Linked DNA regions of Homo sapiens: region 2 is linked to region 1. Evidence: fine-mapped expression QTL. A gene starts in region 1. The other region holds a variant in brackets. All regions are shown on one strand. Distances are between the middles of the regions. Region 1 holds the start of NEPRO-AS1 (NEPRO antisense RNA 1). Region 2 overlaps NEPRO-AS1 (NEPRO antisense RNA 1).

What was found. PIP is the estimated chance that this variant, and not a neighbour inherited with it, causes the effect.
Region 2: its variant is the best candidate, but not a certain one, in a credible set for the expression of NEPRO-AS1 in whole blood (INTERVAL, PIP 0.80).

Annotation. Positions count from the first base shown.
Region 1 is chr3:113,016,980-113,022,362 of GRCh38, reverse strand. NEPRO-AS1 (NEPRO antisense RNA 1) reads right to left here and starts at 2,845. Exons shown (of 3, transcript NR_186663.1): 1 at 2,657-2,845. It overlaps RMP64 (ribonuclease MRP subunit p64), which reads left to right and starts at 2,692. Exons shown (of 9, transcript NM_015412.4): 1 at 2,692-2,821; 2 at 4,761-4,915. The coding sequence starts at 2,716. RefSeq lists a silencer at 2,904-3,013 and an enhancer at 3,174-3,243.
Region 2 is chr3:113,091,631-113,097,013 of GRCh38, reverse strand. The region is part of intron 1 of NEPRO-AS1 (NEPRO antisense RNA 1); the gene reads right to left. All of the region lies in intron 1 of LOLI1 (lncRNA oncogene in liver cancer 1), which reads left to right. Among named protein-coding and RNA genes, the nearest start is that of LOLI1, 10 kb to the left of the region's middle. RefSeq lists an enhancer at 1-4,367. The variant T/C (reference allele first, on the strand shown) is at 2,486.

The DNA of each region.
Region 1 (5,383 bases):
TTTTAAGTTATCCAGGCAATTTTGATAATCAGCCAGGTTTCTGAACTACTGGTCTTCAGGTAAAAAGCCAAATTCTTCCCATGATCTGACTGACACCACTATTCCCAGCTCCACCCCTCAGCACAAATCACGTCCCAGCAGTACCAACTCAGGACTAGTGATTCTTCAAACCCATGCTGCTTAAAACCTCTCTGTAGGAATATCCTTTTTCCTTTAACTGCCTGGGGAGTTCCTATTCATCCTTCAAAAGACTCTATTCAAGCATCATCCAACCTCATATACAGCCAGTAAATATCTACTGAGGCCCTACTATATGCCAGGCTCTGAACTAAGCATTGAGATAGAAAGACCAGTTAGCTATGTCAATGGTAGTTCTCGCTTTCAGTAGGTTCATATGCCATTGGAGAAATAGACATGAAAGTAAACAAAGAAATACAATAAAGCGAGGTAAATTCTGTGAGAGAGGCTGTGGTAGGCTGAATAAAGATCCCTCCACCTCCCACCCAAAGATGTTCACATGCTAATTTCCATAATCTGTAAATATGTTACCTTGCACTGAGAAGGGATTTTGTAGCTATATAACCTTGAGATTTCAGCTGCTTGAGATTTCAGCACCCCAGCATTTTTGTGTGTGTGTGTGTGTGTGTGTGTGCATGAAATAATGAAAATTTTGAACAGGCCCTTGCTTGCTTGTACATGTTAACCACTCGCTTTTTGCCCAGTATTCCTTGTTCCCACAATGTAATTATAAACTGCTGATGTACTGTTTCTTTGTCAAGCAGAAGGAGATAACTTCAGGGTCATAAGAATAGTTTGCAGAAGGAATGAATTCCTGGAAGGACATTGCAACCAGCTGCCATGTACATACGGCTGCACAAGGTGTTACCTGAAATGGAAGAAACACAGACTTTTCCCTTGGATTCCTTGAAACTCCCTCTCCATTACTCTCTAGCTCCATAAAAACTCCCTGCTTCTTTTTTGTTACTGTGGATCTGAGAGATCTTGCTCTCTTGCCCTCTAACTTTGGTCAAATCGAATAAATATTTCTCTGTCTCCAAGCACCAGTATCTCAATATTTGGCATCAGCTGCCCATCGGGTACATGAGCCTGAATTTGGAGTTCTAAAACAGATGTGATTAAGTTAAAGATTCTGAGATGGAGTGACTATCCTGATTATCTTGATGGGCTCAATGTAATCACAAGGGTGTTTTTAAGAGGGAGGCAGGCAGGAGGGTGAGAGAGACAGAGGAAGAGGAGGAGACTGAAAAATGTCATGCTGACAATGAAGGTGGAGGATAGTGAAATGAGCCAAGGAATGAAGGCAGCCTCTAGAAGCTGGAAAAGGAAAGGAAATGAATTCTTCCCTAGAGATTCCGGAAGGAACCAGCCCTGCCAACTTCAGTCCATTGAAATTAATTTTGGACTTCTGACCTCCAGAAATGTAAAATAACTTCTACTTATTTCAAGCCATTAGGTTTGTCGTAATTGGTTACAGCAGCAATAGAAAACTAATACATAGGCCAACATAGGGCACTGTGGTAACACATTAAAGGGGCCTCTGTATCAAGTTATGGAGTGAGGACGGGGTGTTTAGGAAGAATTACCCCAAGTGACGACCCCAGAGCTGAGGAAAGGAGATTGTGTTTCCGAGGATGACCCAGGTAGAGTAGGTAGATGTGTAAAGGCGCACAGAAAGAGCATGGAAAGTGTTTCAATAAAGTAAGACTGCTTGCATGAAATAGTAGTAATAACATCAACAATATTAACTATGGTAAATGTTCATTGTTTGTATGCCAGGAGTGCCTTGGCATTTTACAAGTCTGTGAGATTGATACTATTATTATCATCTTCATTTTACCCACAGGGATACTAAGGTCTGGAGGAGGAGGTAAGTAAATTTCCTGAGATCACCGAGCTAGTAAACAGCAAAGCTAGAACTAGAACCTTGGCAGTCTGTTTCCAAAACTCACTGTTTTTCTAATACGTTACTGTGGGAGTGTTAAGAACTTAAGGGGGCATTAGCATGGCTGAGGATAAATGAATTATTAGAAAGATATTAATGAGGTAAGGATCACTAGAGCTTGGAATATGATCTTGTCTTGGAGACTGACAAAAGTGGGAATGACTGACAGGTGTCTTCCAAGTTTCTTTGATGTGATCTCGGTTTTGCTGTGGTTCAAGACATAAAGGAGCCTTCCTTTACCACTCAAAGCAAATCACTGCTTCTTCGCTACAAATTCCACACCTTGCACAAACCTCTTCATTTCATTTCTTCCTTTTTCCCCTAATGTCTGAGGCAGAGTTGGGGGTAAAAGCACCAACTCAATTCTGGGCCTCATTTTCCATATTTGTAAAATGCCTAGAAGTATTTAACAGTTCCAAACTTGGTTGTGCTTCCGAATCCCCTGCGCTAAGTTTAAACAAAACGCAGATTCCTCATCGCATTCTCAGAGATTCTGTTGGTTAGTATTGGGATGGGGCCTTTTTTCCCCCATGATTCTACGCGGCCACGTGTTGGTAACCAATATACAGATGACTGGGTCCTTCCCAGTCCCACGCGTTTACTCGATGAAGGCAGCCTCCCGCCGGGCTCCTGGCCCCGCCCGAGCCCCACCCCCTGCTCCCTTCCGGCCCGGACTGGGTCCCATCGCCCCACCTCCGGTCGCTGGACGTGCTCTCGCGTAGCTCCGCCTTTCGTAAGTCCCCCCGCCTCGCATGATGGCTGCGGTGCCGCCGGGCCTGGAGCCGTGGAACCGTGTGAGAATCCCTAAGGCGGGGAACCGCAGCGCAGTGACAGTGCAGAACCCCGGCGCGGCCCTTGGTGAGTGAGGCGCCGGGCGAGGATGGGGGAACGTTTCCGGGGGAGGCCGCCAGGCCCAGCCGGCGCATGTGGGCGGGGGTGGTACCGGGACTTCCCGGCCCGGGGGACGCTGGGAAGGGGCGCGGGGCACGTAGGGGTCGAGCGGTCCCAGCACTTTGCTGGTGTAGCTTGTAGGGCCTCTGGCTTCGCATTCCTTCATTGAACCAGCTGTGCTAACCCAGGGCTTGGCTGGAGAGATGAAAGACCAAGGCTCAGCCGTGCGCTGAGGGGGCGGAGAGAGGTGGACTCAGCTGGTGCCGGGGAACAGTGCTGCCTGGGAACCCTTGCTCACCCGGGTCTTCGGAGTCTTGTTTACCCTTCCGTCCATTTCCCCTTTCCTTCTTTTTCCTGTACCCGAGGAGCGGTGGACGTCACCTAAGCACTGGGACTCAAACTGCAATCTTTTCGGACCTCTATCTGCTTATCTGTGAAATGGAGTTAGTCCTCCTACTCCTCACAGGGGCGTTGGGAATATCTAATGATGTAATTTAGGAGACAGTGCGCTGTAAACGACGGTGTTTTGCCACCTAAATGGGTGGTATTTGTTAGGGTGAAGGGCATATAGTAGGTAGGAGCCTGGCGCAGGAGCCAGGTTGTTTGGGTTTGAATACTAGCTCTACCCTTTGCTGGAGCTTGAAGGAGTCATTGAACCTTTCTGTGCCTCACTGATCTCACTTTCAAATGGAGATAAAAGCACCTTCCTCATAGGGCTGTTTGGGGGGATGAAAGAGTTGATAATGTAGAGAAAGCATTTGGAACACTGCCTGGCATGGTAAATGAACACTCAAATGGAAGCTGTTATGAATATTAAATACGTAGCTCCGGGGCCCAAGGGAGAGAATACAGTCATGGGTTCTTTGTTTCCGGTTGGGCTGGTAAAGCCCTTTCCTCATCCCTCTTTTCACTAGAGACAAACTAAAAACCATGGCTTTAAGCTGCAAAAAGCCTAAAACAAAACAGAACAGAACAACAAAATAAGGCGGGTTGGACAAGCTTGACTTAGATCATCACATCCCCTTTCCCATATATCCATCCTACACACTTTACAGATTATCCCATCTATCCTTCCTACACACTTTACAGATTAATCTTCCCTCTTTCTCTATTCAAAAATTCTTTAACAACTCCTATTAGGCCTGGGAAATTCACCAACTCACTACCCATCCCCGAGGCAGCCCATTCTGTCTTCAGGTAGTTGTTGGGACAGTAAGAAAATTCTTGTTAGGTAGCAACCAGCCTTTACTTCCATTTAGAATGCTAGTGCTGCCTTTAGAGCCATAAATAACACATGAACTACATCTTAGGGACTTCTACAGATTTTCAGACTAGGAAGCATCTGCTGATGAGCACCCGGTGTTCATCAAATAATACGATTTCCAGTTACTGTGGTGGTTTTTCTTTTCTGAATATGTTTGTGTCTCTCATAAAGTGATATCCAAACACAGAAGCCTTGATTTTGAAGACTGTGAATTTATTCATTCTGTCTTGCTTTCGGGCATAGCGACATGGGGAGTTAGAGAGTTATTACACATGTTGTGACATGTGCCCTACCTTCAAGGTGGGGGTTAAGTGTACACATGAGGCGTAAGTGTACACCAAATGACTGACAGCAAAGTATTCATATGAAAGATTATTAAACCATGATAAAATGCAATGCAAAGATACAGCTTCTTGTTTTACAGATGTTCTCTTAATGATTTCCTGGACTTTATATCATCTGTTACCATTTTCCAACTTCTCTTATACTTAGAATCCTTACGTTCTTACAGTTGAGACTGATTACATTAGTTTTTGATTCCTTTAAAACAAATAAGGAAAGATGCTTTTTTTAGTGTGTTTTTAATATAATATACTTACTGTAGAAATACATACTAAATCTTATTAGATGTCTCTGCTTCAGACCTTTGCATTGCAGCTGTAATTAAAGAATGCCATCTCGTCATACTGTCGCTGAAGAGCCAAACCTTAGATGCAGAAACAGATGTGTTATGTGCAGTCCTTTACAGCAATCACAACAGAATGGGCCGCCACAAACCCCATTTGGCCCTCAAACAGGTGAGGAAGCCCGGTAGGTGAGACCCAACCTGTTCACTTGAAAATGTAGATCACACTGCCACTTACTATATTGCTATTTATGGAAATCTCGTGGAAATCTCAGTAAATTACTTGTGTTTTATAGGCCTATAGCCCACAGTTACATGTGCACTTTCTTTTTTTTTCCTAAAAGCATTTCAGCATTTCAAAAAGTAATTTTTGTTAGAAAAGAAGTATGTTTAGATTCTTTCCCAGTCTTGTTTCTAATAGGCAAGTAAACATTTTCTTCATTATATACAATCTATAACAACAGTGCCTTTGCCCAGCTCAAAGATAAAGTGATTTGAGCAAGACAAAATGTTGGACATTAAGAAACAGTTCCCTGGGCATAATCAGAATGCTAAAATTATTTTTAAAAAAACTTGTCTACTTATTATGGGGTACATAATCTAATTGGTGGTATGTTAGAGTAAATGGGTACATAGCAAG
Region 2 (5,383 bases), 75 kb before region 1:
ATAATACCTCATACAGTATTGTGATTATTAGATGACTATTGTGATTATTAGATAATTATTGCACATAAAGCATTTAGAATAGTGCCTGGCACATAGAAAGTATTATAGAAGAATCGACTTCTATTATTTATATATAATAAGCACACACAAAAGGTTAAAAAAGCAAACAAAAACTCAGTCAATCTTAACATGTGGTTTGTATATTATTTTTAAGTGACCACATATTTTTTCTTTCCAGAATAAATGATATCTAAGATGGAAATGAGACAGGTTAAATGAATGCTAGTCTGGGTTTAATAACAAATCCATGTTTTTGTTCAGATGAGGAAATAAACCTCAATGATTGCATCAAAATGACCTCTGATTGCCTGATATTAAGATGTCCAAAGCAGGCAAATGTTCAGCCTATTTAAAATCACCACTTTTTTTCTGATTTAAGGGTGGTTTAAGGGTATAAACCAACTTCGTTAAAAATAAGAGGAGCTTGTTCCACTAGAAGAAACTTCTTCCAGCCTCTGAGCCAATGTTCCTAACCTGCCTGAAGAACAAATCTACCATTTCTTTGAACCTCCTTGGTGGCCCCCAGTCCCTGTGCCACAACCAAGCTCTGTTTGATTTGACAAGCTCTCACTGTGTCATGGCCCCTGCTGGCCTAGCTATACAATGGTAGACACAGGGAGAAAGAAGTTTCCCCAGTGGTCCTGCGAGGCTGTGCATTTGGTGGAGGAAAGAAAATCAGGCTGGAAAACTCCTCTGTTCTGACAATTTGGAGAGGAACATTCCAGTGACTGCCTTATTTACCTTCATGAAATGGCAAAGTGGGGACAAACAATATCTTAGCTGTCTGAATGATGGCTCTTTTTACTCTGCCCAGCTCTCAACATCTCTGAGTCTAATAGATTGTATTTCTGAGGGCAGCCTATGTCCTCAGTCCCTCATGGTTACCTTGGAATGAGGAGGAGCCTTCACATCATATTGCAATCCCTTAAAAAGACACATTTCAATTCTCCAAAGTTATTTTTCTCAAAATACAGGAAGTTTGCTGATCTAATTTCCTAGAGATAGTCCCCAGGGGTTCAGAGGCAAATTTTTCGTAAAATAAGCTGGATAACACAACAGCAACCTGGAGAGAAAAGGAGTCTGTACTACTGAATGTGGACAATTCATCTCTGCAGAAGGTGATGCAAGATTTGAGTTGACGTATAATTTTAGGGAAAAGTAGTCTTGTAAGAAAAATGCACAGAAAATTTTTCCATAATATCGAAAGGTCAAAATTAATTTTGAAAGTTTTTGTGGGTGTGAGAAGTTGAAGACTTATGCAAATATTATTTTTGAAATGAAGAATAAATTCAGAAAGGTGAGGCCAATAATAAAAGACATAAAAGTCAGAACCATAGGTTTATAAACAATCCTGACTTTGAAAAACCACTTGGAATTCTTAACATTATTGCAAAATTTACAACTTCATGTGATATTAATAGGAAAAGTAACTGCTTTTATTTTGATTTCAAATATCTTTAGTATTAAAGACTACATTCTATAAAGGCATAATTTTTTTAAATATAAAAATCCTTTGGATGATAATTGACTGTGAGTTTATGGTGAATCATTCATCAAGGTGTGGTAATGGTGTATCTTTTCCCAATTTTCTTTTTGGCATAAATAGTTTTAGTCTGTCATTATCATCATTCATAGAAGGAAAAAAAATAAATGTTTTCTCTTATAAAAACATGGGGACTGCTCAGTAAATAAACTGTTATAAAATTAAAATTGGGTTTCAACTCTGAAGATGAAGTTGTAAGAAACTGTCCACTTTTGATTCTGAAGTGGGCTTTTGTAGTAGTTTTCTGAACCTCTGGAATAAAGGGGGTTGATTTGTGATGGAATCTCCAGAGCCTGCAGTCATATATTAACAATGTGTTGTAAATCCAGAGGGTACAATATAGATTTCACAGGGGGCCCTGGGGTTAATTGAAATTCCATCTGTTTCTTCTGTGTGGCAGACATAGTATCCTGGGATATTAGCTCAGGATAAGAAATGAGATTTGCAATTTTTTTTATTTTTAAGCTAGAGGAGAGGTTTGCCTAAATCTGCTCCTCCCTACTTCTACCTCCTACCTTCAATTAAGGAAAAAAAAAAGTTGAAAATGCAGCCTTTATTTTCTCCACAGCTGCCCCTGAGGCAGCCCCCCTTCTTTCCAATGCATGCCGGGTAATGCCACGTATTCTTAGACTCCCAATGGCCCCCATTACTATCAATTAGTTACGGAATGCTACAGGGATTCATGCCTGACAGCTCGGGTAAAGGCAGGAGAAATGGGCTCAGTAGGGAGCGAGGGGCCTGATTCTTTTTTGTCCACAAGAAATACCTTTCTCAGCAAGGCTTTTAATGGCCTTCCCTTCTTCTTTTCCTCTGCCCAGGCACCCCCAACGATCTCAACACACAGGATATACACATACCCTCATATATTCATACACCGACCTG[T/C]TTGTGTGAATGCTGCCCAGGACTGTGAGAACTCTCAGAGTAGGAGGCTCTGAGATGTCCTTATAACCTCTGAAAATAACAGAGCTTGAAAATTCCAGCTTATATCTTTGCTAGAATCTGATTCCTAAGTTCTCTCTTCAGAAGATTTCTTGTTACTAAGGGCCTGCTTTGCCTCTAGCTTATTAGTATATTTTCCTTCTGCAGCTCTCCTCCCTCCAAAGAAGAAACACACTCTCTTTGGTCACAGACTCCCAGTAGGGAGCCCGCTGCACTCGTGCTGGCCAGTGGCTTGGGCAGTGAATTGTAGTTGGCCATCTCCTACCACTCTTATGTCTTTCTGATTTCTTTCCTTTACCTCTTGCTCTCTCTTCTCTACTTTCCAATATTTTCTCCCTCTTCCTCCTATCATGCCTAGATCATTCCACTGACTCCCAGAGACTTGAGGCCAAGTGCTTGTTTTAGTCATCTTTTCTCCCTCTCTCCCCTTCCTTACTCACCCCAAGTGTTTATCATAACAGGATCTGCCTCAGGACCTTTGCTCTTGCTGTCATCACTGCCTGAAACACCTGTCCTAGATATTTGAATAGTTGCCTCCATCTAATCATTTATATCTGAGCTCAAATGACACAAAACACAGTTCCTCCCTGACTTCTCAAGGTAAAGGGTCACAATTTATACCCAGTTGTTCTTTCCCATTATTATATTCTTTTCATAGCCTAACACATTATCTGAAATAGTATTATTTAGCTATATGTTTATGTGTTTATTGACTGCTTCTTCCATTAGAATGAGTCTTCATAAGGACAATTTTTTTGTTGTTGTTGCACTCCACGGAATAAGAGTTTTGTTGCACTCCATGGACAAATAGGAGCTCAATAACATGTATTGAAAATGAATGACTGAATAAAGTTTTAAAAATGTGATGCTATTGGTTGTTCTCATGGTTAAGGAGAACCCAGCATCACACCAAAATGGTTTGCCTGTTTCTGGTCTGCTACCTTTAAGTACCAAGCCTTCCTTAAGATTCAAAACAAAGATACACTTAGAAAAAACCTGATGGGAAAATGACAGATCTAATAGACAATAGCAAATACAATGCTTAAAGCGATTATATTTCTCTAGATGGGTTTAAGAAAGATGACAGAGTAGGCCAGGCACGGTGGCTTATGCATGTAATCCCAGCACCTTGGGAGGCTGAGGTGGGCGGATCACCTGAGGTCAGGAGTTCGAGACCAGCCTGACCAACATGGAGAAACCCTGTCTCTACTAAAAATACAAAATTAGCCAGGCATGGTGGTGCATGCCTGTAATCCCAGCTACTCGGGAAGCTGACGCAGGAGAATCACTTGAACCCACGAGGCGGAGGTTGCGGTGAGCCAAGATTGTGCCATTGCACTCCAGCCTGGGCAACAAGAGTGAAACTCCATCTCAAAAAAAAAAAAAAAAAAAAAAAAAAAGACAGAGTAAAGGTAATAGAGGATGACACAGAGGAAAACACCATCTGGGGCAATTAGCCCCGGGGTTATACACAGTTCCAGTTCCTTTGTCTCCTGGGGCATGGCCTAGGGCAGGGTGTGTAGGGGAGTCAAGGGCAGAAGCAGTGAGACACTTCCATCGTCTCATCCAGACATCTATAGGAAGGCAGAGGAGTCCCAGGAAGAGAGTAATATGATGGAAACAAGTGAGGGGGGTAGTGGGTGGAATGTGACTCTCAGAGAGATTTCCTCAGCCCAAGGGTAAGGCGGTAGGCATGTATTTCAGGCAGCAGGCATGTATTTCTTGAAGTCTGGGGCTTTATCGGGAGGACACTGCCCAGAGCAGGACTCAGGTCTGCAAACTGCAGCTACTTTATATTGTCACCCCATCACCACCCACATAGTGCTTTAAGATTCTGACAGAATCATGAGGCTTCATATAATGCCATCTGAGATGAATTTCCAATGCTGTCTTATTATTACATCTGCCTTACTTTAGTGCTTTTCAAACTTTAATGTGTATTTGAATTACCTGGAAAACTTGTTAAAATGCTGATTCTGGGAAAGGTTCTGAGATGCTGCATTTCTAACAAGCTCCCAGGTAATGCCATTTTGCTAGTCCACCTACACACTGAGAAGAAGGACATTACCTCACCATCATGGCGAGAAATGGAGAGCTTGGTAAAGATGGATTGACTCTAACCTCAATTAAAGAAGCAAGGGCCGGGTGCGGGGCTCATGCCTGTAATCCCAGCACTTTGAGAGGCCGAGGCAGGCAGATCAGGAGGTCAAGAGATGGAGACCATCCTGGCCAACATGGTGAAAACCCGTCTCTAGTAAAAATACACAAATTAGCCGGGCGTGGTGGCATGCTCCTGTAATCCCAGCTACTTAGGAGGCTGAGGCAGGAGAATTGCTTGAACCCGGGAGGTGGGGGTTGCAGTGAACCGAGATCGTGCAACTGCACTCCAGCCTGGGTGACAGAGTGAGACTCCATCTCAAGAAAAAAGAAGCAAGAATTTCATTAGTAAATATTTTGTTTCTACATATAAGGAAAAAAATAAACATTTATATCTATGACCCTTGTATTTTTCCTTTTTGGTAAATGAGTGTCATAGGTGCTTGGAAACAGTAAATGAATTCATTACTAGAGATAGCAAAGCTGTTTGTCAAGTGTAAATTTCTATTTTTTTCCACACCACACTCTTGAATGTGTATAATAGAGGAGGAGAGAATCAGATCTATTATACAAACTTACTTTTTTCTTCTCTTTTGTATCTTTCCTTCCTTCTTTTGTTCCTTCCTTCCTCCCTCCCTCTCTCTTTTCCCTCTTTCTTTCTTTCTCTTTTCTTTCTTTCCTTCTTTCTTCTTCCTTCTTTCTTTCCTTTCTTTCTCTCCCCCTCCTTCTTTCTTTCATTCATTC